Homo sapiens: one gene and its partners. The protein of the gene in region 4 purifies or fractionates together with the protein of the main gene of each other region. This does not show direct contact. Each region holds a gene or a part of one and is shown on either strand. Other genes may lie near its edges. The genes, in order: CALD1, ECT2, AASDH, GPSM2, LSM11, PABPC4L and TTF1.

Region 1 (3,298 bases), on a different chromosome or scaffold from region 4:
CCTCCAGTGATCTGCCTGCCTCGGCCTCCCAAAGTGTTGGAATTACAGGTGTGAGCCACTGCGCCTGGCTGGATCTTATTTTATTTTAGCCTTCCTTCTGCTGATTTTTTTCACTTCCCTCTTCCTGTCTTTCTCCTTGATGTTCTCTTTTCCTGTCTTAACTTTTGGCCTTGCTTATAGCATTTAGAGTCAAGTAAGTTGCTTTGTTTTTTTCATTTTTAAGCCCCACTGTAAGAGCCAAAAATCTACAGTGTGTATTCCAGAACAGGCACATGCGACTGAATAGCTCAGTGAGGGCCACATCAATGTATGATGGTGAAGGAGGATGTTTATCTTTAGTTTTCTCCCATTTTTAATCTAGCAATCTCTATTTTCTCCCTCCTATTCTTACACCCCTACCCCACGAGACTTATCTGACCTATAGTCCTATTCTTACACCATTCTCTCCCCCTCAGCTAGTTGCTAAAAATTTTTGCCAAGCTATTAAGAAATCTTAAAGTGTTGTGAATTCCAATTTTCAAGGGTGTTCATTGTATTCATTTCTAAGGAATGACTGAGTAACAAGAAATGAGTTTGACAGTTTGGAGCAAAAGAGGTACCTAATCTGCTACCTCATAAACTCAGTTCTCGGTCTGGTGGTTATATTATTACTACTGTAGAAAGAAGTTAGTGGCACATGAAAACTCACACTGTCACCCTCCTACCTTGTACTGCCCTGGTGCTACATAACTCCAGGGAGTACCATTCATGTTTGTATGTGAGTGGTGTTCTCTGAGTCTGACCATTCCACATCATCTTTGTTCCACTTTCCAGAGCTCTGGCTAGGAGGAATGTTATCCAGAGAGACTCCGTTATACTGGTGATGATGGTCTATGGCCAGCTGACATCTGCTTTTCAGACAGGAACCTATATAAACACTGGGACTGCCATTCTGAGAAGTCAGATACCTCTCAGAGGTCTGAGAGGAGAGCCTTCTGCTGTCAATGTTCCTCCCACAGTGGTGTGTGGAGAATGTCTTCCTGGGAACCATTCCATGGGTTTGGGCTATTTACATTGCATGGCTGACAAACCTGCAATGCGCTAATAGCATAGGCTAGAGAGGTCATAAAAGCTTAGGTCAACAAGCTCATTCTTTGTTTAAAAAATAACAAAGAAAGTTCTTTTCTCCCCTGCCACCGAGAGAAAATTATACAAGGAATTGAATAACTATACATTTTCTCCTGAATATGCATCCTAAAAGAAAGTACCATGTATAATGGTTAAAAATGCAGGCTCGGATCAGGTGCTGGAGTATCAATGCAGGCTATGCTACTTATTCACTGTGTGACTTTGGGAAAGTTACTTCATCTCTCAATGCCTCATTTTTCTCAGCTGCAAAATGAGAATGATAAACTACTTACCTCACATGGTGACTGGAGGATCAAATGAAATAATGGAGGGTAAGAAGGTAGAATAGTGTCTGGCATATAGTGGGGTGCTCACTTGTAGCGCTAGTAGTTAGCAATGTGATAATTACCAGCAGGTACTTTTCATATGTTTAGCAATGACTTAGAAAGGCTAGTGGATTTTAATGGAATAAAAGCGCAATACGTAGCTAATAGTGAAGGTGGGGTAATATGTTTAGGTAGCTGCACCAGAACTAAGAGCATGAGAAAGTGGGAAAGGGAAGGTAATTCTCTCACTGCAGTGAATTGTAGTGATTCTCTAGTTGCCGTTGATGTGCTCTTTAGTCCTGAGTTTGCTTACGAAGTGCTTCTGTTTAAATCAACCCATAAGCAGCCTGTTCTAACCTTGCTTATTGTTGGTCTCCAGTTTCTCCCTTTTTAATTTTCTTTTTATTGAAGGAGAACACGAGGTCTATTACTTGAAATGGGGAAAGGCTACAGTTGGGAGTTGAATGAGCTCATTGTACCACAAAGGGTCCCATTTGCAGTGTAAGCATCATTTAGATGTTCTTCAGAGCCTCCTTTCTGAAGAATGACCATATCCTTTGACCAGAAGACTAAAAGTAAGAGGAACCCAATCATTCTTAATCATTCATTTTCACAGGGTGGTAAATGGTTGCCTTACTTTTGAATATTTTTTTTTTTTTTTTTGGCCATAGCAACCCTGAGTCTTAGGCTGCTGGCAGTGGCAATGTAATCTAAAATGGTTCCAGAAAGCAGTTTTGGAAACACTCAGGGAGACAGATGTTTTCCCCAAGTGATTTTTAAATGACTGTGGCACTAAGCTGGGACCTTGTAAGGAAACGTAGACCATGGTATCCCATACGGCCTTCTGCTGCCAATGTTCCTACCACTGTGGTGTATTGAGAATGTCCTACTGAGAACCATTCCATGGATTTGGGCCGTTTATGTTGTATGACTGACAAACTTGCAATGCGCTTTTCATTTCACTGTGTTATGTACTGGTCTTTTAGACACTGATGGGTGTGCAGGCAAAGATCTGTAGGTCAGTGATATTTCTCATCTGACTCCAGGACATTATACTACACCATACATCAGGAAAACAAACCTCTGAAATACTAGTCTTCCCAATAGATTACCTTAGTGGGGGAAGTGACCTTATCCACAGATTGCTTTTCCCAGAGGTTCCGCTTGCTGGATACGTCTCCTGGTCTCAAGTCCTGATAAAAAGGAAGCAGAAAAACATCGATAGGTGGCCATTTATATTTTCTAGCCAGCTCTAAATAAATGGCCACATCTATTGTTTATTTGAATCAGTTTGTTGTTTAATACACTTTACCCCAGTGATCTGAAATGGAATTGAAAGGACCATCAGCTGTTGTTTGATTTTTTTATTTTTTTATTTTTTTTGAGACAGAGTCTCACTCTGTAGCCCAAGCTGGAGTGTAGTGGCGTGATCTTGGCTCACTGCGACCTCCATCTACTGATTTCAAGTGATTCTCCTGTCTCAGCCTCTCGAGTAGCTGGGATTACAGGCGTGTGCCACCATGCCTGGCTAATTTTTTTGTATGTGTAGTAGAGATGGGGTTAGCTGTTGTTTGATTTTATATAGACCGTGACATGTCTTATGATATGAGAATGGGCTGGAACTATAGCCTCGGGGTCCTTGCCCTTTCCTAAGGACTTACTGTTTATTGATCAGTAAAAGTGAAACAGGAGCATGTTTAAAATAATGTAGCCTCATTTTAAATTTCTGCACTCTTACAAGTCAATAGATCATGGGTTATTTAAAAATGATTAATTTGGGGTTTGATAAGCATTTCCTGCCTCACAGATGAACTCAATTTGTACTCACCTCTTTCCCCCCAGCCCTTACTACTTTAGTGCACACC
Region 2 (3,500 bases), on a different chromosome or scaffold from region 4:
GAAAAATAGCTGAGAAATTCATTGTTGCTGTTGCATAGATTGTATAGGGACTGGGGTAGTTACAGATGGTGAGGGTGAATAGTTAGGCGGGGACCAAATTGTGAACTTGGTGGTGAATTTGGACTTGGACATATAAGGAGTACTCATGGAAGTTGTTAAGCAGGGAAGTGATATGGTCACATTTGTATTTAGGTGCATATTCCTGAAAACCATGTGGAGAGTGATTTCTAAGGAAACTGATGGTAAAGTTGTGTGGAGCTGGTTTATTAGACCAAGTGACCATTGTGTCATTGAACGTATAGAGAAGGGGGGCCAGATTCCAGAGATACTTGAGGTGGGATTGATAGGAATTTTGGGGAGGGAAATGTGGGAGAGGAAAAAATTAGGATAGATCTCAGATTTTTGGCTAGGATTTTTGTGGGAGGTGTGTTATGGTGGTGTTATAATTGAATATAGGAAGAGAAATTGGTTGAGGGCAAAGGTGTGGAGAAGGGAGGTAGAATAATATTTATGACTACAGTTGAGTGTTTGTTGTATGTCTAGTAATGTTCTATGTGCTTTTGATACATTGTTATTTTTATTATATTCCTGTGAGTCAGGTATTAGTATGTTTATTTTACAGAAAAAGAAACTGAGGCTCAGAGAAGGTCAGTGACTTTCTTTGGTTCATTAAAAAAATGGGTAATAATACTTTTTATAAATTCTAGGTAAAAAGAGCCTCTAATACTTACTTTTGCCCAATGACCATGTTTATGTATTTTTATTCAAATTTTATTTTTTCAGCTGATTTAGAAGAATACAAATCATGGCTGAAAATAGTGTATTAACATCCACTACTGGGAGGACTAGCTTGGCAGACTCTTCCATTTTTGATTCTAAAGTTACTGAGATTTCCAAGGAAAACTTACTTATTGGATCTACTTCATATGTAGAAGGTAAACCTGTTACCTGCTTTAAAACAATCAATTTCTATTTTAATTCTAAACTTATTAGTGACTTTCTTAAGATTTAATTTTAATACCAACTGTAATGCTAGAGCACAGGTATTAAGTAAATATTTGTTTACAGAATCCTTTTACACTATGTCATTTTTCTGATTATTATTTGGGTTATTTGTATGCTTTGCAGCTTTGAAAAGGGAGGCATCTTAATTTGGATATTCCTTTTTCTGTATGTGAGGGCGGTCTAGCTACAGCATTATTAGCTAGAAGTTATACAGTCATGACTGGTTAGGTGAAAGCTACTTTTTCCTTTACCACTTTATAAATGGGTTTTTCCTAAAATTATATGCACTGTTGAGGAGGATGACTATGTAAGATAGCGCATTCTCTGGCTAGGAGGAATGCTGATGTTTGTATACCCTGCTACAATATGGTTTCTCTTTCTCTAAAGTGATATATAGCCAGATATTTTTGTAATAAGTTGGGAGTTGAGTCCTATTAAATTTAGAGAAAGTTATGATTCCCTCAAAGATGTAATACATACTAGATATAGCCAAAAGAGCGATAAGGACCTACTGATTGTGATGTTAATACATGATAAACATTGAAACATTTTACATTTTAACAGAAGAGATGCCTCAGATTGAAACAAGAGTGATATTGGTTCAAGAAGCTGGAAAACAAGAAGAACTTATAAAAGCCTTAAAGGTACGGAGTTTTAGGTTTTAGTTTTTTTTGTAATGCAATTTTTCTTCCATCAGTGTGTAAATAGTTTCATAGCTTTCTTAACCTCATACTTAAGTCTCTTTTCCACAGACTATTAAAATAATGGAAGTCCCTGTTATAAAGATAAAAGAAAGTTGTCCTGGAAAATCGGATGAAAAATTAATAAAAAGTGTTATTAATATGGTAGGTCAAAGTAACTCATTGCATGTGGCATGCTGCACTTCCCTTGATTGTATTATTCTACTTTCTGGTGATTGGAATTAGGCACAAGGTGTATTGTGTGCAATCTGAAGCTTAATGAATAGAAACTGTTTTATACTTTTTAACTCCTTAGCTTCTTTTTTCTCATTCATTTTATATTTAGTCTAAATTCTTGCTGTATTTCCAAAATTATAAATCACGGTAATTTATAATCAGGGAATTTGCCTCAGCATACGAAATAATCTAATTCTGGAATCCAGCTGTTTTAGTTTGCTAGGGCTGCCATAACAAAATACCACATAGTTAATTGCTTAAACAGTAGAAATTTCTTTTCTCACAGTTCTGGAGGCTAGAAGTCCAAGATTAAGGTGTGTGTAGGTTTAGTTTCTCTTGAGGCCTCTCGCCTTGGCTTGCAGTGTCCTTTTGCTGTCCTCACATGGCCTTTCTTCTGTGTGTCCTTGCATCCCTGGTGTTTCCTCTTATTGGGACACCAGGTTGGATTAGGGCCCACCCCTATTATCTCATTTAACCTTAATTACCTCTTTAAAGTCCTTATCGCCAAATATAGTCACACTCTAAGGACTTCATTCTTCATTCTAGGTTAGGGCTTCAACATGAATTTTGGGGGTACATAATTTAGCACATCACACTAGCCTTGCAAATAAAATTCAAATAATTTACTGACCCATTTTGAGTTAAAAAAAAATTTTTTTTTTAATTTAACACGAGTTACAAGAGTTATATAGGTACTTTAGTATCTTCATTATTTTTCGTGGATGTATAAAGTGTTTACTGTAAGTAACTTGCCTTTTTATATCCTACATTTGCCATGCTGCAACTGCTACATATTGCACATCTTTCTCATATATCTTACATATCTGCTAAAATGATTATGCTGATTTTCCTTTCTGTAAGTATTAAGTGCTATAGTATTATTTTCCTATTTTTCTGAAGATAGTTAATTTGTACAATAAGAACTTTATGTATGGTATCATTTTCTTGGTCAGTAGTGGATATCTTTCTAATGCATCTTGATATCAAAATGCATGTACTTAAAAACTTTAGCATTCTAATTTTATGGAACTTATGCATACTTGATGATTTATGACTAATAAGTAATAAGTCAGAATTATGCCTTTATAATACTGATCTTTAAAATTTAAGAACTTAATTTGAATGGAGATATGTATATGTAAAAATGTAAGTACGTAAAGAAATATGGTTGTTCATTAAGTGTAATGCTGATTATTGTGTGATAGAAACTTATTTTCTACAAATATAAACATGTTAAAGTTGATATTGAATTGATTGTTAAGCCTTATTTAGAGAGACAGATGGATTATTTGATATATAAATAATTTTTATTTCTGCTAACTATATGATGAAAAGGACATTAAAGTGGGCTTTGTAAAGATGGAGTCAGTGGAAGAATTTGAAGGTTTGGATTCTCCGGAATTTGAAAATGTATTTGTAGTCACGGACTTTCAGGATTCTGTCTTTAATGACCTCTACAAGGCTGATTGTAGAGTTATTGGACCACCAGTTGTATTAAATTGTTCACAAAAAGGAGAGGTAAGCATATACATTTATTATGACTTTTCAAGTTAAAATTTTTATTAATGAATTTTAATT
Region 3 (3,500 bases), on a different chromosome or scaffold from region 4:
TACCATAATTTCATAAGTTCAGAGATTCTTCATTTATATATCTTTGATATAATTATTTTTGTGAGATATTATTGTAGAGAAGTTTTTCCCTGTCCCTCCACCGAGCTCTCTAAAACTCCCTCTCCCCCTAACACTTCTGTATATACACAGGGTTCTGTGCTACAAATTGATGTTTAGATAAACTTCAGTGAAATGACTCTTCAGGAATTGGTGCATAAGGCTGCCTCCTGTTATATGGACAGAGTAGCTGTATGTTTTGATGAATGCAACAACCAGCTTCCAGTTTACTACACCTACAAGACTGTGGTTAATGCTGCTTCTGAATTATCAAATTTTCTGCTGTTACACTGTGACTTTCAAGGAATTCGGGAAATTGGTCTCTACTGCCAACCTGGGATAGACTTACCCTCTTGGATTTTAGGGTAATATTTTTTAGAACTGTAAATTTGATGTTACTCCAAGCTAATGTAAATTTTTAATAGAGTATATTGCAAGTTATTGTTCTGTTTACTATTGGACTTTTCTATATTGTTTGGTCAATTGTAGAGAGACTAAAGAAGTTTGCATTTCCCCAGTATTATTTTTATATTATTTAAATTAATTATTCTGAGCTTATTTAGGAAAGACTAGAAGCTTTCACTAATAGAACGTATAAGTATCTCCAAAATGTAAGGGCTTCATTAATCTGTTAAAGGAAAACAATTATAACAATTTATAACACTTTGTTGTTAGATAAAAGAAAACAGGATTTCACAGATAACATGACTATGTTTTTTGTCCGCAACTGAAATTTGAGGCACTAAGGTATTCAATAAATCAGTAAATTAGAGTTTTGGATAATAGTTGATATAGATTGAAATATGAACCCATTAGAAGACACTATTCCAACAAATATTTGCAAAATGTTCAATCATTTAAATTGTTCTAGAATGTTATCCTCATATAGTGATTTCTATTCTAGAACTCTGCAGTAAGTATAAACTGCCAAAGAAATAGTTTATTCATTCTATAATATGTGTCTTAGTAAATTAATTATATAAATATAAAGCAAAAGATGTTCAAAAATTTACTTTTGGCCAGGCACAGTGGCTCACACCTGTAAATCCCAGCACTTTGAGAGGCTGAGGCTGGAGTATTATTTAAGGCCAGGAGTTCGAGACCACCCTGGTGACTTCACAAGACCCCATCTCTATAAAACAAATAAAAACAACAACAAAAATTTACTTTCACTCAATTATTGACGAAATTTATTGAGAATTTACTATGTGCAAAGATCTAGTGTCCTTAAAGTATACCTGAAACTACTTAAAATGCTTAACTTTAAAAAAATCTTGTATTTCTCTATATTAAGTGATAAGAATTTAACATAGTAAATACTCAGGATTTTCATTAAGAAAAGATAAAATGACAGTGTTTATGTATTTATTTATTTTTGAGATGAAGTTTCACTCTTATTGCCCAGGCTGGAGTGCAACGGCGTGATCTCGGCTCACCGCAACCTCCGCCTCCCGGGTTCAAGCAATTCTCCTGCTTCAACCTCCCAAGTAGCTGGGATTGCAGACGCCCGGCTGATTTTGTATTTTTAGTAGAGACAGGGTTTCTCCATGTTGGTCAGGCTGGTCTCCAACTCCCGACCTCAGGTGATTCGCTCGCCTCAACCTCCCAAAGTGCTGGGATTACAGGCGTGAGCCACCGTGCCCGGCTAAAATGACAGCGTTTATTACCAACTATGTGTCAGTGAAAACATTGGAAATTTCTGATCAGCAATAAAGTGCTCCGGAAACCATTTTTATGCTGCTACAAAAAATAAATAAAGTGCATAGAGAAATAGAAATGCTTAAACAAATACTAAATCAACAGACATTCTATGCTGACTGTGTACTTTTTTCTTTAGAATTCTCCAAGTCCCGGCTGCTTATGTACCTATCGAGCCAGATTCACCACCGTCATTATCAACTCATTTTATGAAAAAATGTAATCTAAAGTATATCCTTGTTGAAAAAAAACAAATTAATGTAAGTCTGGATGTTTCAATTGTTTTTTGCCTGTATTACATTTATTTCAATTGAAACATTCCTTCCTTCTCCCATCTGGATTCCTAAGTCTGCTAAATGTGGCAAGGTTTCTCAGTCTTTGCACTATGACATTTTTAGGGTTGAGTAATTGTTGTGAGGAGTGTTCCGTATATTATAGGATATTTAGCAATATATTTGACCTCCACTCGCTAGACCTCAGTAGCACCTCCCAGTCATAACAACCAAAAATCTCCAGACATTGCCAATTGTCCCCCAGAGGGGCTCTCCACCCCTCACACTCCATTGTGAGCCACTATTCTGTAGTATGAACAGATCTGTTAGCCTTATAATAATATATTATGCATTGTTTTGAATTTCTCTTTCCAAAGTATTTCCTATACTGCAAAATTTTATAATACTTGGAACTTTCATATTTATGGCAATTACATTGGTCAGCAACACTGAAGAATTATAACTAAGCTTGCATTTTGAAAAAGAGACTGGTACTTAGAGGAGATCTTTCCAGAAAAGTAAATTTATTGTTTTTTTATTTTTAAATGATTGCCAACCAAAGATATAACCAAGAAACTCTGTTTTTGGGGCAAGAATTGGTGTTATATCTTCAGCAAGATGCAGCCCATGCTTCATTGTTTATTTATTATTTATAAAATATTGTTTTACTAAAGGGGAAGAACATTATAAAAATATATTCAATTTAGCCTGTTTTTGCCCATTTTCTATATGAGCCAGTTTGTATTGGGGTAACTTAAATGCATTCCCTGCTTTCACCCCCCCCAACTGTGTGTGTGTGTGTGTGTGTGTGTGTGAGAAGTGTCAAGAACTTGAGGTATATGGGGGACTTTCTAGAGACTCAAAGGGTTTTTTTTTTTTTGAGCCAGAGTCTCACTCTGTTACCCAGGCTGAAGTGCAATGGGCAGTGGTGCGATCTCAGCTCACTGCAACCTCCGCCTCCCAGGTTCAAGCGGTTCTTGTGCCTCAGCTGCCCAAGTAGCTGGAATTACAGGTGCATGCCACCACACCCGGCTAATTTTTGTATATATATTTTTAAGTAGAGACAAGGTTTCACCATGTTGGCCAGGCTGGTCTTGAACTTCTGACCTCAAGTGTTCTGCCTGCCCCGACCTCCCAAAGTGCTGGGATTACAGGCATGAGCCACCACACCTGGTCTGGTTAATAAATATTTTTAAAATAATTACTTATTAGTGTGTAGCCGAAATTTCCTCTACTCCTCAAATTGGTTATTGCATTGTTCATAAGTAAGCAAAACTGAAATGGGGATGTGATGTTTATTTTTCTTAGCAATCTTAGTGAAAATTTTATAAAAGGTAGCTGAGTATCAGTATTAATTGTCAATGTCAAGGTATTCTTTATGACCAGTAGGAGTTGGACATAGCAAAACCCAAAAAGGAGTTGGGCGCAGCAAAACCTTGCTTCCTATCCCATGATTTTGATGATGGTGTAAGT
Region 4 (4,051 bases):
CACTGCAACCTCCGCCTCCTGGGTTCAAGCAATTCTCCTGCCTCAGCCTCCCGAATAGCTGGGATTGCAGGCGCCCACCACCAGGCACGGCTAATTTTTGTATTTTTAGTAGAGACGGGGTTTCACCATTTTGACCAGGCTGGTCTCCAACTCAGGTGATCCCCCCGCCTCGGCCTCCCAAAGTTGCTGGTATTACAGATGTGAACCACCGCGCCCGGCCGGTATTTTGTGAAGAACAAACTATAAGGTGACTACTATTTTGGGGTCACCTTGACATGGAGGAGAGGTGAATGGAAATAAAACTTATTCTTCCCAGTGTCTTTAGAATGTAGGCGCTGAAACTGAGTGAAACTGAGTAAAACTGCCACCCAATTTTCCTGGGAACCAGCGATTCTGTAGTCAACAGAAGTTTGCTTTTCCAACAGCTGGAAACGCCAGGGTTGGGCACAGCCTCAAGAACTGAGGCTGCCTTGTTCAGACTTTCACACGGTCCCTCTGTTCCTTCCACAGAGGCCTCTTTTTCTTCTATATCCCGCATCTGCCGCTTGGGACACTCATTCTGTAGCGCAGCACCAAGTCTTCCAAAAAGGCGGCGCTGGTTTTGCGCTCCTTTTTTAAAGGGATCTAGGCCAGCCTCTATCTGAACTCTGTACGATGTTTTTTGTTTGTTTGTTTTGTTTTGTTTTTGAGATGGAATTTCGCTCTTGTTGCCCAGGCTGGAGTGCAATGGTGCGATCTCCACTCACGGCAACCTCCGCCTCCCGGATTCAAGCGATTCTCCTGCCTCAGCCTCCTGAGTAGCTGGGATTAAAGGCATGCGCCACCACTCCCAGCTAATTTTGTATTTTTAGTAGAGACGGGGTTTCTCCATGTTGGTCAGGCTGGTCTCGAACTCCCGACCTCAGGTGATCCGCCCGCCTCGGCCTCCCAAAGTGCTGGGATTATAGCCGTCCGTCACAGCGCCCGGCCAACTCTAGACAATATTTATTGCTCTACTTTTTAGTGTCTGAAGAAGAAAGAAGAGGACAGGAAAGAAACTTCAGTCTGAGGGTTGAGGACACGTCCCGGAGCAGAGGAGGACCAAGCTCCCAAGCCCCCTGTCACCTTGACACGCAGACGGTTCCCCAGGACTGCGAAGAGGGGGGCAACCAGCGCCCCGCCCCGCCCCGCTGCGCCGCCCGCCATTGGCCGGTCCGAAAGACGCGGGGCGTTGTCGGTTTGAATGAGAGCGCCTGGAGCCGGGGCGCAGGCGCAGAGGAGGGCGGTGTTGAGACCGGCGGAGCGGCGGGACCCCTAGGTGGCGGAGGGACGCTCCGGGAAAGCGAGGGGCGCTACGAGCTCTGGCCCACGTGACCTGCCGGGGGCGGGAGCAGGGGGCGCGCCGGCCTCCTGCGGTGCCCCTGCCTTGGGGAGGGGCCGTGACCACCCGTCTGTCGCCCGAGGCGGCCGCCGCTGCACCTTCACCGCGTACCCGGGACCCGCCCGCCCGCGGGAGGTGAGCGCTTCCGCGACGCGGGTTCTGAGGCGTTTGAGGGGCTCTCGGAGGGAGGTGACAGGGAGGGGTGCGTGTGCGTGCGTGTGGGGCTTCTGTGTCCAGAGGTCTGGGGGTGACGTCCTTTGTTTTGGGCAGGAGGCGGGCTGGGGGCTTGCGGGACCTGTGGGCGCTGCGGGGACGCGGCGTCGATGCTCAAGAAACCAGAAACTCGGCTTGAGGAGTTGCTGCTTTTTTGTCGGAAGGTCTTCAAATGAGAGTAAAGCGTTAAGAGCCTCACTCCTGAGTCTTTTTTTTTTTTTAAGATAAAAACTATACTAGAGTCCAGCGACTTCTTACCACTCTGAATGTGAGTAACAAATTGTGAATCAAAGCCCGAATCCCCGTGGAATTCATTCCGAGGCTGATTGCAATCACTTGGAGTCGGGCGCGTCCTACCTAAACCAGGCAGTTTATGGCAAATACCTGCCTTGACCGTGCTTAAATTAGTGAACTTTTGGGCACCAACTGGTCGATTTACCATAGAAATTGGTAGTTGCTGCAAAAAGAGTAAGTAAACATAAAACGTTAAGAAAACTCTTTCCTGAAATCTATAGAATACCTTCGAATAAAAAAAAATCTGTAATTTCCTTGTTTTAATAGTAACCAGTTAGAGCATTTGAACTAGTAGCATTTGAACTCTGTTAAAGAAAACGAGTAAGGATGGAAATTTTATTGGCCTTAATGCATAATTTAACCACACCGTAGAATTAAACGAAGTAGGTTCTTGGCTTTCCTTTCTATCGGGTTTGCATTGGAGCGTTCGTGGGGTGTGTTGGAAGTCAGCAGGACCAACAGAGCTGAGTTTTCAAGCTGCCACTTTAGAAGGGTGTACCGAAGATTTCTGGCCTGATAATAGCCGGTGTGATTGCTTCTGATAAATACCACTTTTGATTGGGTTCTCACTATTCAGGAGCAGCTTTAGTTGATTGTTTAGAAGTGAATAAACAACATTAAAAAGGGTAGATCACTGTTGGTTGACATGGTGTGTGTAAGGAGAGGGGGGCCTCAGGGATTAGGGGTGGTCTCACACCTACTTCTCTTTACAACTACCACGGAGTCGTTTTCGCAAGCTATTTCCCAGGCTATTACTTATAATTTAAGTATTGGAGCGGTTTCAAAGTAAAAAGTTGTGTGATGTTGTTGTAGAGGCATGTCTCCAAAATCCTCTCTGGCCAGATAAGCAGTTTAATTGTATTTTCTTACATTCTTAAATCAGATATTCGGTGTTACAAACATATTTTAATATAGATCTGAGACTTGCTTACTAGACTAATTAAAACAGTGATAAGATATAGTAGTTTTAAAAATGACCTTTTCATAAACATAAAATATTTCTAAGATCTATCTTTAGAAATTTGTAATTAGTTCTCTGGAATTTTAAAATGGAAAATCTGACATAGATTTAGGTTATTCTAAATTTATTTGAATATATATTAAATATGTCTATTTTATAATAACAGTTACTGTTATTACTACAGCACTATGTTGAGTACTTTTGTTATGTATCAGAGCCAGGTGCTGGGTCAGGTGCTTTATAAATCATGTCTGTAATTATCACAGCACATTTTAGGTAAGTGTCATTATGCCCACACCAACTGAGAGTTTAGCGTAAGATCATATAACTAATAAGTCACTGTGCCGAGATTCAAATCATGGCCTGATCCCAAAGCACATGCTGTATTGCTTCTGTGTGTCTGTTTAAATCTCTGCTGTGTCTCTGGATTCCATTTGTAGGGACAAGTTCTACTTTAAAGATGCCTTTAGGTGCTGTGTTTTGTTGTAGCTTCGCAGAAATATTTCAATCTTTCTGTTGGAACTATCTTGCTTCATTATTTTATAAATCATCTTATAAATCACATTATATTTTCAATATCTTCTTAATCATCTTTATACAAAACATAAGTGAAGAGTAAGACTTTTCTGAGTTTCTTACATAAATATGAATAGAATCTTTACTGTGGAGAAGAAATGTATTACAGTCCGGTTTTCTCACTATTGTAGGATTCTTTGGCCTCGTCATAATTCCTGTCTTCTTCCCAGGGAAGAAATTAAAGTTTGTTGGGCCTCTCTTATGTGCAAAGCAATGTCGTTGGTGTTGTGAGATGACAAGAAAATGCTTCCTATTCAGTAGTTGTTTCTGGAGTTTTTGTAGTATTTTTCTTTTCTCCCCATTCCTGCCTTATATGTTGCTGCTGGTTTATCTTCCTAGCAGAGATCCAACTTGGCTATTCCTTTGTGGGGAAAAAATACCAGCAAGGTTCCCCATTGTGTAAATAAAAGGCTGAGGCCGGGTACGGTGGCTCACGCCTGTAATCCCAGCACTTTGGGAGGCCGAGGTGGGCGGATCACGAGGTCAGGAGTTCAACACCAGCCTGACCAACGTGGTGAAACCCCGTCTGTACTAAAAATACAATAGTTAGCCCAGTGTGGTGGCACACGCCTGTAATCCAAGCTACTCAGGAGGCTGAGGCAGGGAGGCGGAGGTTGCAGTGAGCCGAGATCGCGCCACTGCACTCC
Region 5 (3,500 bases), on a different chromosome or scaffold from region 4:
ATTAAAATACGAACCCAAAGCTATTCTGCTGGAGATTCTGTTTTGGTAGGTCTGGGATGAAGCCCAGGAACCTTTTGTTTCAACCAGAAGCCCCAGGTGATTCTGATGCAGGATGGCTTTAGATCCCACTTTGAGGAACATTACTGCTTCTTTACCCGCTTCAGTTTCTATGTCTTATGAAAGCAATTAACAGAGATTAACCAGGGTTACACACAGAATTGCTGGTGAGTTCTCATCACCGAGAGCAACCTCGACAGGACAGCTGTTAGGACCAAATGAGAAGTACAAGACAAATTCCTTTGAAAAGTGTAAATCACCCTACAAATAGAAGCTGACAGTACTGTTATAATCACCACTATCATCTAACACATTCTCTTCAATTCTTCAAAGGTAAAAAGATCATAATAAAACATTTTTCCCTGCATTTTGGAAATGAGAAAACTGAGGCTCAGAGAAATTATCTTGCTTACAGTCACACAGTTACCAAGTGATGATGCTAGGATTCAAATTCCCTAATGGTTAAAAACATGGTTTTAGGAGTTAGGCCGAGGAAAAAGTTTGGCACTTCCACTTACTAACAGTGTGATCTGCGACCAACATTCCAATCTCTCTAGAATCAATTTCTTCATTTGTGAAATGGAACAGTAATAGTACCCACAACTCATTCATTGAGATAATATATGAAGCCCTCAGTATAGTACCTGGCACATAGCAGGTACTCAATATATGTTAGCAGCTACTGTTCTTATCCAGGAGGATGCGTGGATGGGGATAAAGCACAGGGAAAAGGAAAGTTGGAGATAGAAGACCATATGGAAAAGAAACACCAGAAAGCTCTGGTGGTTCTTTTTTTTTTTTTTTTTTTTTTGACAGAGTCTCGCTCTGCCACCCAGGCTGGAGTGCAGTGGCATGATCTCGGCTCACTGCAACCTCCGCCTCCCAGCTTCAAGTGATTCTCCTCCCTCAGCCTCCTGAGTAGCTGGGATTACAAGCTTGTGCCACCATGTCTGGCTAATTTTGTATTTTTAGTAGAGATGGGGGTTTCCCTATGTTGGCCAGGCTGGTCTTGAACTCCTGGCCTCAGGCGATCCGCCTGCCTCGGCCTTCCAAAGTGCTGGGATTACAGGTGTGAACCACCGCGTGCAGCCTAGTAGTTCTTAACTACCTCAAATTATAGTTGTGCTATTACATATCCCTTCTCTCCTACAAATGTCTAGAAAAAAAGTAAGCCTCTAGAAGGCTAGGAAGTGTGGCACACTCCCTCATTATAAAACCACCATGTGGCCGGGCGCAGTGGCTCATGCCTGTAATCCCAGCACTTTGGGAGGCTGAGGCAGGCGGATTACCTGAGGTCTGGAGTTCAAGACCAGCCTGGCCAACATGGTGAAACCCTGTCTCTACTAAAAATACAAAAATCAGCTGGGCATGGTGGCAGGGGCCTGTAATCCCAGCTACTCAGGAGGCGGAGGTTGCAGTGAGCTGAGATTGTGCCACTGCACTCCAGCCTGGGTGACAAGAGCAAAACACTGTCTCAAAAAAAAAAAAAAAAGACATCATGCAAAATGCTTTGTTTACTGATGTCTGCTTCACCTCTATCCTTATTTACCTTCCCATGTACTGTAAAGTGCAAGTTCCTTTCTGAAACTTTTGCACCTAGCATGGGGTTCAGCCAAAATGGGAAGTCAATAAATGTTTTTCTTAATTAATGAAAGAATGGTTGGTAGAAAATCAACTAAAAATTACTAAACCGATAAAATAATTGGTCCTTAAGGCTGGGTTTCTCAACCCTGGCACTAAGGACTTTTCAGATTGGATAATTCTTTGTTGTTGAGGGACTATCTTGTGTGTTGTAGACTGTTTAGCTGCAACCCTGGCCTCTACCAATTAGATGCCAGTAGTACCCTCTCCTATAGTGGTGACAATAAAATGTCCCCAGACATTGATGAATGTTCCTGGGAGTGAAGGAAGAACAAAATTACCTTGGTTAAGAGCCACTGCCTTAAGGAGAAGGAAGCAATAAAAAGACCTTTTCTTGTTGTTGCCCAAAAGTATGCAAAAATTCTAGTTCTTCTAAGAAGTTATTTTTTGGGTTTTACTTAATGCAGTTACTCAGGTCCTTTAAATATTATAGAAGATATAATCTGTAGGAGGTTCTCCAGCCCCTTGAGAAAGGCTTAATTACCATATTCCAGAACTTGTCGAATGCAACAAGGAAGCCTGTACAGACGCCCCGAAGTCCCTTGAAAGTGCGGATGTGAACATTCACCTTCACCCCCTCACGGATACAGCGATGGAGTTCACCCAGAGGGCTGCCTTCGTGCACTGAAACAAGAGAAGAACAGTCAGGACAGTTTTAATATCTGCCCTCATTCCCAGAATTAAGCCACGACCACCCAACTTCGGCCAGCAACATGTGGCCCATGGTAGAGTGACAATCTCACTATTGGAACAGGAAGGTCCAATGGGCAACATGGCTCGTACGGCCAACACACACTGACACAAGACTAGATTCCAACAGAATGTGGATCATCCATATGTATGAATATCAGCCAAATGTTTCACTACCGGTATATCTCTTATTCCACGATGTCACTGATTTTAACATGCACTATCACTTAACTTTTGGGGTTGGCCGGGCGTGGTGGCTCACGTCTGTAATCCCAGCACTTTGGGATGCTGAGGTGGGCGGATCACCTGAGGTCAGGAGTTTGAGATCAGCCTGGCCAACATGGTGAAACCCCATCTCCACTAAAAATACAAAAATTAGCCAGGCATGGTGGCCCATGCCTGTAATCTCAGCTACTCAGGAGGCTGAGGCAGGAGAATGGCTTGAACCCAGGAGGTGGAAGTTGCAGTGAGCCGAGATCGCACCATTGCACTCCAGCCTGGGCAACAGAGCAAGACTCCATCTTGAGAAACACACACACACACGGGCACGCAAACATTAAATGTATACATTAACAGCGAGATCCTTCTCAATTCTGTGCCTTAAGACAATTCATGAATCACATATCCAGCTTGAGTCTTCCAAAAAAACAAAAACCTTGTTTACATGTTCAAAGGAAACAAACTGCACTCTGCCCTTAAACATGTACAATCCTGTCAGAAAGAAAGGCCTTTGACCCCACCAAAGCTACTCCATGCACAAGCTTTCTGGACTCACTGGTGTTTCTGGGAGGAAAAGCACTGGTTCTGGCCCAAGCCCTGACAGTGTAAAAGGCACCTGGCTGAGTATCTGGCTCCTATGACACTACTAATAAGCATCATGTGAAGAGAGCAGGATAATGACTCATAGGAAGAATATTGAGACTATAAATTTCAGCTTTTATTATGAAGGATTCTCAGAGCGTGGGAGGAAAGATGAATTTTATTTTTATTATTTCATGTTAACTCAGCTCTCACAATATGCTGGCTATGGTATATAAAACCTCCCAAAAGAAAGCCGTACACATTCTTTTTTCCTGAGACAGGGTCTCACTGTCACCCAGGCTGGAGTGCAG
Region 6 (4,117 bases), on a different chromosome or scaffold from region 4:
TCTGTTAAGCAGAGCAGAAACTTTATTTGTTGTTCAAAGAGTAGAGAAGGTGAGCTTCCCATTCACCTTTTCCCCAGGTGTGTGCAGAAGGGGGATTTTTAAGGTCTCTTAGAGCATGAAGGTGGAGACTAAGGATGCGAATTCCTGGAAAGAGGTGGGACTTTCCAGAGAAAACTAGAATGTGTGCAGTCTTGTTCTTTCTTTTGCACTGGGCACTTACTATATGTGCCTAGCAAAGGGCATCTCTCCCCACTGGGCAGAGATTTTAATATGATAAGGAAGTGAGGATTCAGGTCTGTCTGAGTAGCACTGCCAAGCTGAGTTTTTATCTCGTGGCTTGTTTGTGGCTACTGGCATCCAGCCCGGCTTTTGTTTCTGTAAACAAGTACAACTGAGACCACAGGTTAATTTCATAGGTTCTGGCACTCTTGGAGAATCAAGGTCATGCTACCGTGACAGTAACTTATTGACTCTCTAAGATGCATTATGATTCAAATTTTAAGGATTCATTAGATACTAAAGAATTTTATTTAATGCTAAAGAAAATGAAATCATTGTTACTGGAAACCACTTATGTATCTGATATTGTGTTATCCATTTCCAAATCTATTAACTCATTTCACACGTAAAATACTCTCTAAGATAAGTGCCACCGCCTCCATTTAACTAGATGTGAAAACTAACCTGAGGCTAAGATTTGTTCAATAAATACTGCACATCCCTTGTCTGCAAGTCCCTGAGAATAAAGTGCACATGGCTTCTATTGTTACGAAATATGCAATATTTTGTAATTAGACAAAAGCCGGCAAGTACAGGGTAGTGTTAGAGTTTCTAAGAGGGAAACCTAAATTGTCAGAGGGGTTTAGAAAAAACATCTATTTGGAAAGAGCATTTTAACTCATTTCCGAAGAACACATTTTTATAAAGTTGGCTCTGAAAAACGCTAGTGTGTCTTGGAGTTTTGTAAGGGGAACTAAGCAGCAGTTGAGGCTGGAACATTTCAGGAATCCTGCAGAACTTTATAGAACAAGGTGCGGATGTTGGACCTTATCCAAAAGTCAAAGGAAGCCACTGGAGGGTTTGAAGCCAGGAAGTGACAGGCCCTGATCCACATTTGGAAAGGCTCCTTCACTCAGACCCATGCAAAGCCCTGCGGGCGGGTGGGTTTATTGGGGCCACTCCCCTCGGCTGCCTTTCTCCACCCCAGTCACCGCCTCCTGCTTCTCAGCTTAGCCATCTGAGGAGGGTGGGAAACGTGTAATAGGGGCGGGGGGAAGAAAAACGTTCTTAAAAAAAATATTAAAAAGAAAACATCCCACTTGGCAGCGAGTGCGCGGGAAGTTCAGCGCGCGAGTTCCGGGCTTCCCGCCCGCCCGCAGACGACCGCCGGTGAGCCCCCAGCCCCCGCCTGGCCGCCCGCTTCGCCGCGTCCGTCAGTCCGTCGGTCTGTCAGCCTCCCCTTCCCCCACGCCTCCTTTCTCCGGGCGCCGCGCGGGTCGGGAGGTCGGAGGGGCCCCCTAGGTCTTCAGGACGCCCTTGGCCCGCGTCGCTGCCGGCAGCGCCTCGGCGGCGGCGGCGCCTGCAGAACCCGGTACCTGGCAGGTTCGGGTCTCTGCCGGGCAGAACCTCGCAGCCCATACTCCACGGCTGGGGCCTCTGACGCCTCCGCTTGTGGAGTTCTTCCCTGAGCGGCTGTAACTTTAAACCACTCTGAGCGAGGCCTATTTTTATTCAGAAACCAGCGACCAGGGCGTCTGTGGAGAATGCTCAGATGGAGGGCCAGCCCGCCACTTGAAGTTTTCTCACAAATCTGAGGGGAAGGAACGTCTTGTCCTAATAATCTCTCTTTGCGATTTCACAGTTCTGTTGCCGCGTCCTAGGAGGGCCAGATTGGTGGCTGTGGGGACTTTTGGATGAGGGTGTTGCCTGAGCTGGGGGAGTCGTGTCTGAACTCCATTGCTTGGCCTTTGTGTGGTGATCCCGAGGCCTCCACACTTGAACCGGGCCAAAGCTGTGACCTAGTATCCCCCCACAGGGATTGCTCAAAGAACTCCAGGGGACAAACTCACAGTGGCAAGGACAAGGAGATGAATGTAGCAGCCAAGTACCGCATGGCCTCCCTGTATGTGGGTGACTTACATGCAGATGTCACCGAGGACCTGCTGTTCAGGAAGTTCAGCACTGTGGGGCCTGTGCTGTCCATCCGCATTTGCAGGGACCAGGTCACCCGCCGCTCTCTGGGCTATGCCTACGTGAACTTCTTGCAGCTGGCTGATGCCCAGAAGGCGCTGGACACAATGAACTTTGACATCATAAAAGGCAAATCCATCCGTCTCATGTGGTCTCAGCGCGATGCCTACTTGAGGAGATCTGGAATTGGGAACGTATTCATCAAGAATCTGGACAAATCTATCGATAACAAAACCCTTTATGAACATTTTTCAGCTTTTGGAAAGATCCTTTCCTCCAAGGTGATGAGTGATGATCAAGGCTCCAAGGGCTATGCATTTGTGCACTTTCAGAACCAGAGTGCTGCAGACAGGGCCATTGAGGAGATGAATGGAAAACTACTCAAGGGCTGCAAGGTGTTTGTTGGCAGATTCAAAAACCGAAAAGATCGTGAAGCTGAACTCAGAAGCAAAGCCAGTGAATTCACCAATGTTTACATAAAAAACTTTGGAGGTGACATGGATGATGAGAGATTGAAGGACGTTTTCAGCAAATATGGCAAAACTCTGAGTGTTAAGGTGATGACAGATTCCAGTGGGAAATCCAAAGGCTTTGGCTTTGTGAGTTTTGATAGCCATGAGGCTGCCAAGAAAGCTGTTGAAGAAATGAATGGAAGGGACATAAATGGGCAGCTGATTTTTGTAGGCCGGGCTCAAAAGAAAGTCGAGCGACAGGCTGAGTTAAAGCAAATGTTTGAGCAGCTGAAAAGGGAACGAATTCGTGGGTGCCAGGGGGTAAAACTCTATATTAAGAACCTTGATGACACCATCGATGATGAAAAACTACGAAACGAATTTTCTTCATTTGGATCAATTAGCAGAGTTAAGGTAATGCAGGAAGAGGGGCAGAGCAAAGGGTTTGGCTTGATCTGCTTCTCCTCTCCTGAGGATGCTACTAAAGCAATGACTGAGATGAATGGCCGCATCTTGGGCTCCAAACCTCTTAGCATTGCCTTGGCCCAGAGACACTAGGAAAGAAAAACGTACCTTTCCAGCTAGTATCTGCAGCAGGTGGGAGAATGATAGTGATCTCTGCCTGAATTGACCTCAGTAAATTTCATATTCCACATGATGGGTGCTTAGTTTAGTAAACTTTATGATAAAACGTTTTTTATACAAAGCCATTTTTTTTCTTTTGTGGAAAAATAGATGGAGCTTAGTTCATTTTACAGAGGCACATTTTCTAATTTTAATATTGCACATTTTTCTTATTTTGATATGTTCATAGCAATAAGTATAAATAGATATATTTTTACATTTGAACCAAATGAAATGAGGTAATTATTTGAATTTATTGCATATTTATTATTTTAGTAATATTGCTAGCTTTAATTTCTTCTATGAAAATATGCTCAAAATAGTTCTTACAACTAAAGATTCCAAAGTATTTTTACCAACAGAAATTTTCTAATTTTTCATCCAAGTTTTGAGAAATCAAACTTTTAGAAATTTATAGTACGAATTTAAAGACCTAATTTCATTTTGAATTAATGCTTAAAATAGTCAGATATAGTTGAATTTCTTTTAAATTTATATCCTGACATGCTTGTTTTTCGGATGGTTTAAATTAAGATGATGGAAGTTTTTAATGTTGCCTAAAAACTGGCTTTATGTGTTTTGTTCTTTCCATTAGTTGACTATAATTCAGGTACTTACTAGTTAATCTAAATTGTAACTTGCACTGTAAAACCTTAACTTCTACATTCCTTAAGTTATAAATCTGTTATCAACTCAGGTGATCCAAAGTTGGCCTGGTCTTAAATCTCTTCATACCTATATGGCTTAATATATTATCTTAAATTTTTACCAGATGCTAATATTATGAAAATCATACATACAGATTATAGAAATTCTGTTTAAAAACTTTTAAAATCTCTTTTATATTGTTT
Region 7 (3,500 bases), on a different chromosome or scaffold from region 4:
GGATCACTTGAGGTAAGGAGTTTGAGACCAGCCTGGCCAACATGGTGAAACCTTGTCTCTATTAAAAATACAAAAATTAGCCAGGTATGGTGGCAGGTACCTGTAATCCCAGCTATTCAGAGGCTGAGACAGGAGAACTGCTTGAACCCGGAAGGTGGAGGTTGCAGGGAACCGAGATCACGCTGTTGCACTCCAGCCTGGGCAACAAGAGTGAAAATCCGTCTCAAAAAAAAAAAAATTAACTAATTAAAAAAAAAACTAGCCAGGCAGGGTGGTGCATGCCTCTAATTCCAGCTATTTAGGTGGCTGAGGCACAAGAATTGCTTGAACCTGGGAGGCAGAGGGTGCAGTGAGCTGAGATCACACCATTGTAACTCCAGCCTGGGCAACAGAGTAAGACTCTTGTCTTCAAAAAAAAAAAAAAAAAGGACACTAAGGAAATGGAACAATTATTAAAGGGGGAAAATGCTATCAAGGACATTACTGGGACAACTGGTGAAATCTGAATGTGGACTATGTTTTAGAGGGTGTACTATATCAATGTGAAACTTCCTGATTCTCGATTGTACTATGGTTATGTAAAATAACATCCTTGCTTGGGAAGTGGTATCTGCCACTAACTCTTGAATGGTTATGGGAAAAACCGTATTCCCTTGGAGGAGGGAGAGAGGGATGATAAAGTGAACGTAGCAGAATGTTCAGAAGAGGCGACTATGGGTAAAGGGGATGCGGGGTTCTTTCTGTTACTCTTGCAACTTGTTTAGCTTTTTGAAGCCTTTAAGAGACTTTGCATACATTTCATTTGCCTTTCTTGGGTGTCTTCGGTGGCAGGTGGGCTGGAGGGAGGGCTGGTCTGATTTATTTGGTCCAGAGCACAGAGACTGGAAGTCTCGAATAAACACACACATTGCAGCTTTCCTGTTCTGTGGCGCTGGCACACCACCCTGCAACCACGCAGTGTTTCCTCACCCAAGACTGTATCTTGGCGCTTTCTTTGCCCCACCACCGAGGGGCTTTCTCATGATTTTTTGTAGCTATAAAGAATGTCACTATATGGGTAAAATACATATATAGCCAGTCCCCTATTAACAGGCCTTTTGCAGTCAGTTACTCTGTATACAAGTCATTTCATGTATGTGTGAAGTTGTTTTGTAGAATGTATTTCTAGAAATGGAATTACTAGAATTATTTGAATTTTGAATGGTACTAAGGCTGCAAAGTATGTAAAATTTACCAAAACAGATAACAGTAATTGGAGGGAGTGAATGTAGATGTTTAATAAGGACGGCTGGATTTTGACAGTTGCTGAACTGGGGTGATGGGTACATGAAGCTTCATTTATTTTGTATCTGTCTAAAATTTTCCTAATAAAGTTTCTGAAAAAAATAATTGGGCATTGCTAATAAAGCAGTACTTAGAAGAAAACATATGGCCTTAAATGTATATTACAAAGAAAGAAAAATGGAAAATGAGCTAAGAACCCATCTCAAGAAGTTGAAGAACAGCAGCAAAATAAACTCAAAGAGAGCTGAAGGGAGGGCGTGATAAAGAGCTGACATTAGAATAATCACAAGATAGGGTCAACGCAATCAAAGCTGGTGCTTTGAAAAGACAATCTCTGGTAACTCCTATTCAAGCAGTAACAAAAGAGAGTAGGTATAAATAGCCAACATTAGCCATCAGAACATCACTCAGATCCTGCAGACATTTTGCATAAACCATCTACGGAAAATAGATACTGGTTTCCTGTAGGGCTACGCGTGGCTGGTGAGTGGTAAGGGGACACTTTTCACTGTGTTTCCTTTCAGGTTTCTTTCTTTCTTTCTTTTCTTTTGAGATGGAGTCTTGCTCTGTTGCCCAGGCTGGAGTGCAATGGCATGATCTCGGCTTACTGCAACCTCCGCCTCCTGGGTTCAAGCGATTCTCCTGCCTCAGCCTCCTGAGTAGCTGGGACTACAGGCACCTGCCATCATGCCTGGCTAATTTTTGTATTTTTGTAGAGACGGAGTTGAACCATGTTGGCCAGGCTGGTCTTGAACTCCTGACCTCAGGTGATCTGCCCACCTTGGCCTCCCAAAGTGCTGGGATTACAGGCAAGAGCCACCGTGCCCAGCCTACGTTTCTTTAATTCTGGACTACGTAATCTATTACCTATTCCAGAAAAACAGCAAAATCAAACTGAACAGTCAAGTCCTTTTTCCTTATGGGTGGGGCATGATATTCAGTTCTGTATTTGAATTGTTACACACAACTAAAACGTTCTAACTGGGAACCGACCAAGTCATTTAACCAGCGCTAAAGCACGGGGTCTCGGCAGGGTAACACATCTGAGTCACCTGGAGCTCTGAACAATCCTGACAGCCAGACCCCACACCAGACCAATCCCATTCATGCGAAGCCAGACCCCACACCAGACCAATCCCATTCACGTGGCACTGGTATTTTTTAAAAGTTCCCCAGATGATTTTGAAGTGAGAGCTGGGCTGAAAACCAGAGAATTGCTAGTGTTTACAAAGTTCCAAATTGGGTACACAAAGGTAACTGGAACTCCTGGATGTCTGGAGCGTGTGCTGAGTTGTCAACTGTCTGAAGTCCCCTGAGGCGTGGGAGTCTGGCCTGCACACGCACCCAGCCCATCGCTGCCGTCATTTTACTCACTGTTCTGGGCCACCTGGTCCCTTTCCAGTCCCTTGAATGTGCCCAGCCAGTGCTGGCTCAAGGTGTCCGCATTCACTACTCTCTGTCCGAACATCTTCAGTCTCATCCCCGCATGGCTACCCTGCCACCGCTTCTGCTTCCATAGTCTTCCCTAACCACTCTATCTGATTGCCCCCGACGTCCCTTCTACTCTATTTTTGTTTTCTTTTTGGTACCATGCTATCTGAAATGAGCTTATTTGTTTACAGTCTCTTCCCAGAACTAAATGTGAGTTCCTACTCTGTGCCTGGTATACAGAAGGTAGTCAATAATTATTATTAGTTTGATATCGTTATCATCAATGTAGTTTTTAGGTTAATTCTATACTATACAAAACTTGGCATTTGTGTCAGCAGAATGGATGCTCTACCAGGCAAGGAACTTGTCTTTTGTTCAATGCTGTATCCCCAGAGCCTAGAAAAATGCCTGGCATATAGGCACCTCGTATTTGGTGGGTGAAGAGTAATTCTGAGCCTTTGATTTTTCAATAATTGGAATTGATAAAAGGTATGTACTGGGAAAATTCACTTCATTGTTACTAAAGTACCTATAATATCACCTCCAATGCCTGCCAAGGTCAACTCGACTGTATGGTAATACTTCCTTACACGATTATTTTTCCACTGGAAAACTGAAATAGGAGGGAGGTGGGTGGGCCATAGGTATTATGCTCTAGCTAAAATCTGTAATCACAAAACACCTGAGGCGTGATGATCTATGTGACACTAAAAAAAGGGAAGAAAAATGAAAAACATATCCAACTAGTGATGTATTTAGTGTCATGAAAACCTGATCTACCTAGC

Evidence for each region.
Region 1: the proteins of GPSM2 (region 4) and CALD1 purify together in Homo sapiens (affinity purification with mass spectrometry; one large-scale study listed by BioGRID and IntAct). This does not show direct contact.
Region 2: the proteins of GPSM2 (region 4) and ECT2 purify together in Homo sapiens (affinity purification with mass spectrometry; one large-scale study listed by BioGRID and IntAct). This does not show direct contact.
Region 3: the proteins of GPSM2 (region 4) and AASDH purify together in Homo sapiens (affinity purification with mass spectrometry, with the first as the bait; one large-scale study listed by BioGRID). This does not show direct contact.
Region 5: the proteins of GPSM2 (region 4) and LSM11 purify together in Homo sapiens (affinity purification with mass spectrometry; one large-scale study listed by BioGRID and IntAct). This does not show direct contact.
Region 6: the proteins of GPSM2 (region 4) and PABPC4L purify together in Homo sapiens (affinity purification with mass spectrometry; one large-scale study listed by BioGRID and IntAct). This does not show direct contact.
Region 7: the proteins of GPSM2 (region 4) and TTF1 purify together in Homo sapiens (affinity purification with mass spectrometry; one large-scale study listed by BioGRID and IntAct). This does not show direct contact.

Annotation. Positions count from the first base shown.
Region 1 is NC_000007.14:134,964,634-134,967,931, reverse strand, and holds part of CALD1 (caldesmon), read right to left. Parts: intron 2,627-3,298; coding exon 2,546-2,626; intron 1-2,545. UniProt on the Homo sapiens protein: Actin- and myosin-binding protein implicated in the regulation of actomyosin interactions in smooth muscle and nonmuscle cells (could act as a bridge between myosin and actin filaments).
Region 2 is NC_000003.12:172,753,726-172,757,225, forward strand, and holds part of ECT2 (protein ECT2), read left to right. Parts: intron 1-783; 5' UTR 784-805; coding exon 806-935; intron 936-1,569; coding exon 1,570-1,649; intron 1,650-1,757; coding exon 1,758-1,850; intron 1,851-3,257; coding exon 3,258-3,440; intron 3,441-3,500. UniProt on the Homo sapiens protein: Guanine nucleotide exchange factor (GEF) that catalyzes the exchange of GDP for GTP. Promotes guanine nucleotide exchange on the Rho family members of small GTPases, like RHOA, RHOC, RAC1 and CDC42.
Region 3 is NC_000004.12:56,380,992-56,384,491, reverse strand, and holds part of AASDH (beta-alanine-activating enzyme), read left to right. Parts: intron 1-150; 5' UTR 151-192; coding exon 193-422; intron 423-1,894; coding exon 1,895-2,015; intron 2,016-3,500. UniProt on the Homo sapiens protein: Covalently binds beta-alanine in an ATP-dependent manner to form a thioester bond with its phosphopantetheine group and transfers it to an, as yet, unknown acceptor.
Region 4 is NC_000001.11:108,875,734-108,879,784, forward strand, and holds the start of GPSM2 (G-protein-signaling modulator 2), read left to right. Parts: upstream 1-1,251; 5' UTR 1,252-1,495; intron 1,496-1,797; exon of another isoform or gene 1,798-2,041; intron 2,042-4,051. UniProt on the Homo sapiens protein: Plays an important role in mitotic spindle pole organization via its interaction with NUMA1. Required for cortical dynein-dynactin complex recruitment during metaphase. Plays a role in metaphase spindle orientation.
Region 5 is NC_000005.10:157,750,212-157,753,711, reverse strand, and holds part of LSM11 (U7 snRNA-associated Sm-like protein LSm11), read right to left. Parts: intron 2,323-3,500; coding exon 2,183-2,322; intron 1-2,182. UniProt on the Homo sapiens protein: Component of the U7 snRNP complex that is involved in the histone 3'-end pre-mRNA processing. Increases U7 snRNA levels but not histone 3'-end pre-mRNA processing activity, when overexpressed. Required for cell cycle progression from G1 to S phases.
Region 6 is NC_000004.12:134,198,990-134,203,106, reverse strand, and holds the start of PABPC4L (polyadenylate-binding protein 4-like), read left to right. Parts: upstream 1-1,317; 5' UTR 1,318-1,389; exon of another isoform or gene 1,390-1,861; 5' UTR 1,862-1,913; coding exon of another isoform or gene 1,914-2,087; coding exon 2,088-3,200; 3' UTR 3,201-4,117. UniProt on the Homo sapiens protein: May bind RNA.
Region 7 is NC_000009.12:132,382,841-132,386,340, forward strand, and holds part of TTF1 (transcription termination factor 1), read right to left. Parts: intron 1-3,500. UniProt on the Homo sapiens protein: Multifunctional nucleolar protein that terminates ribosomal gene transcription, mediates replication fork arrest and regulates RNA polymerase I transcription on chromatin.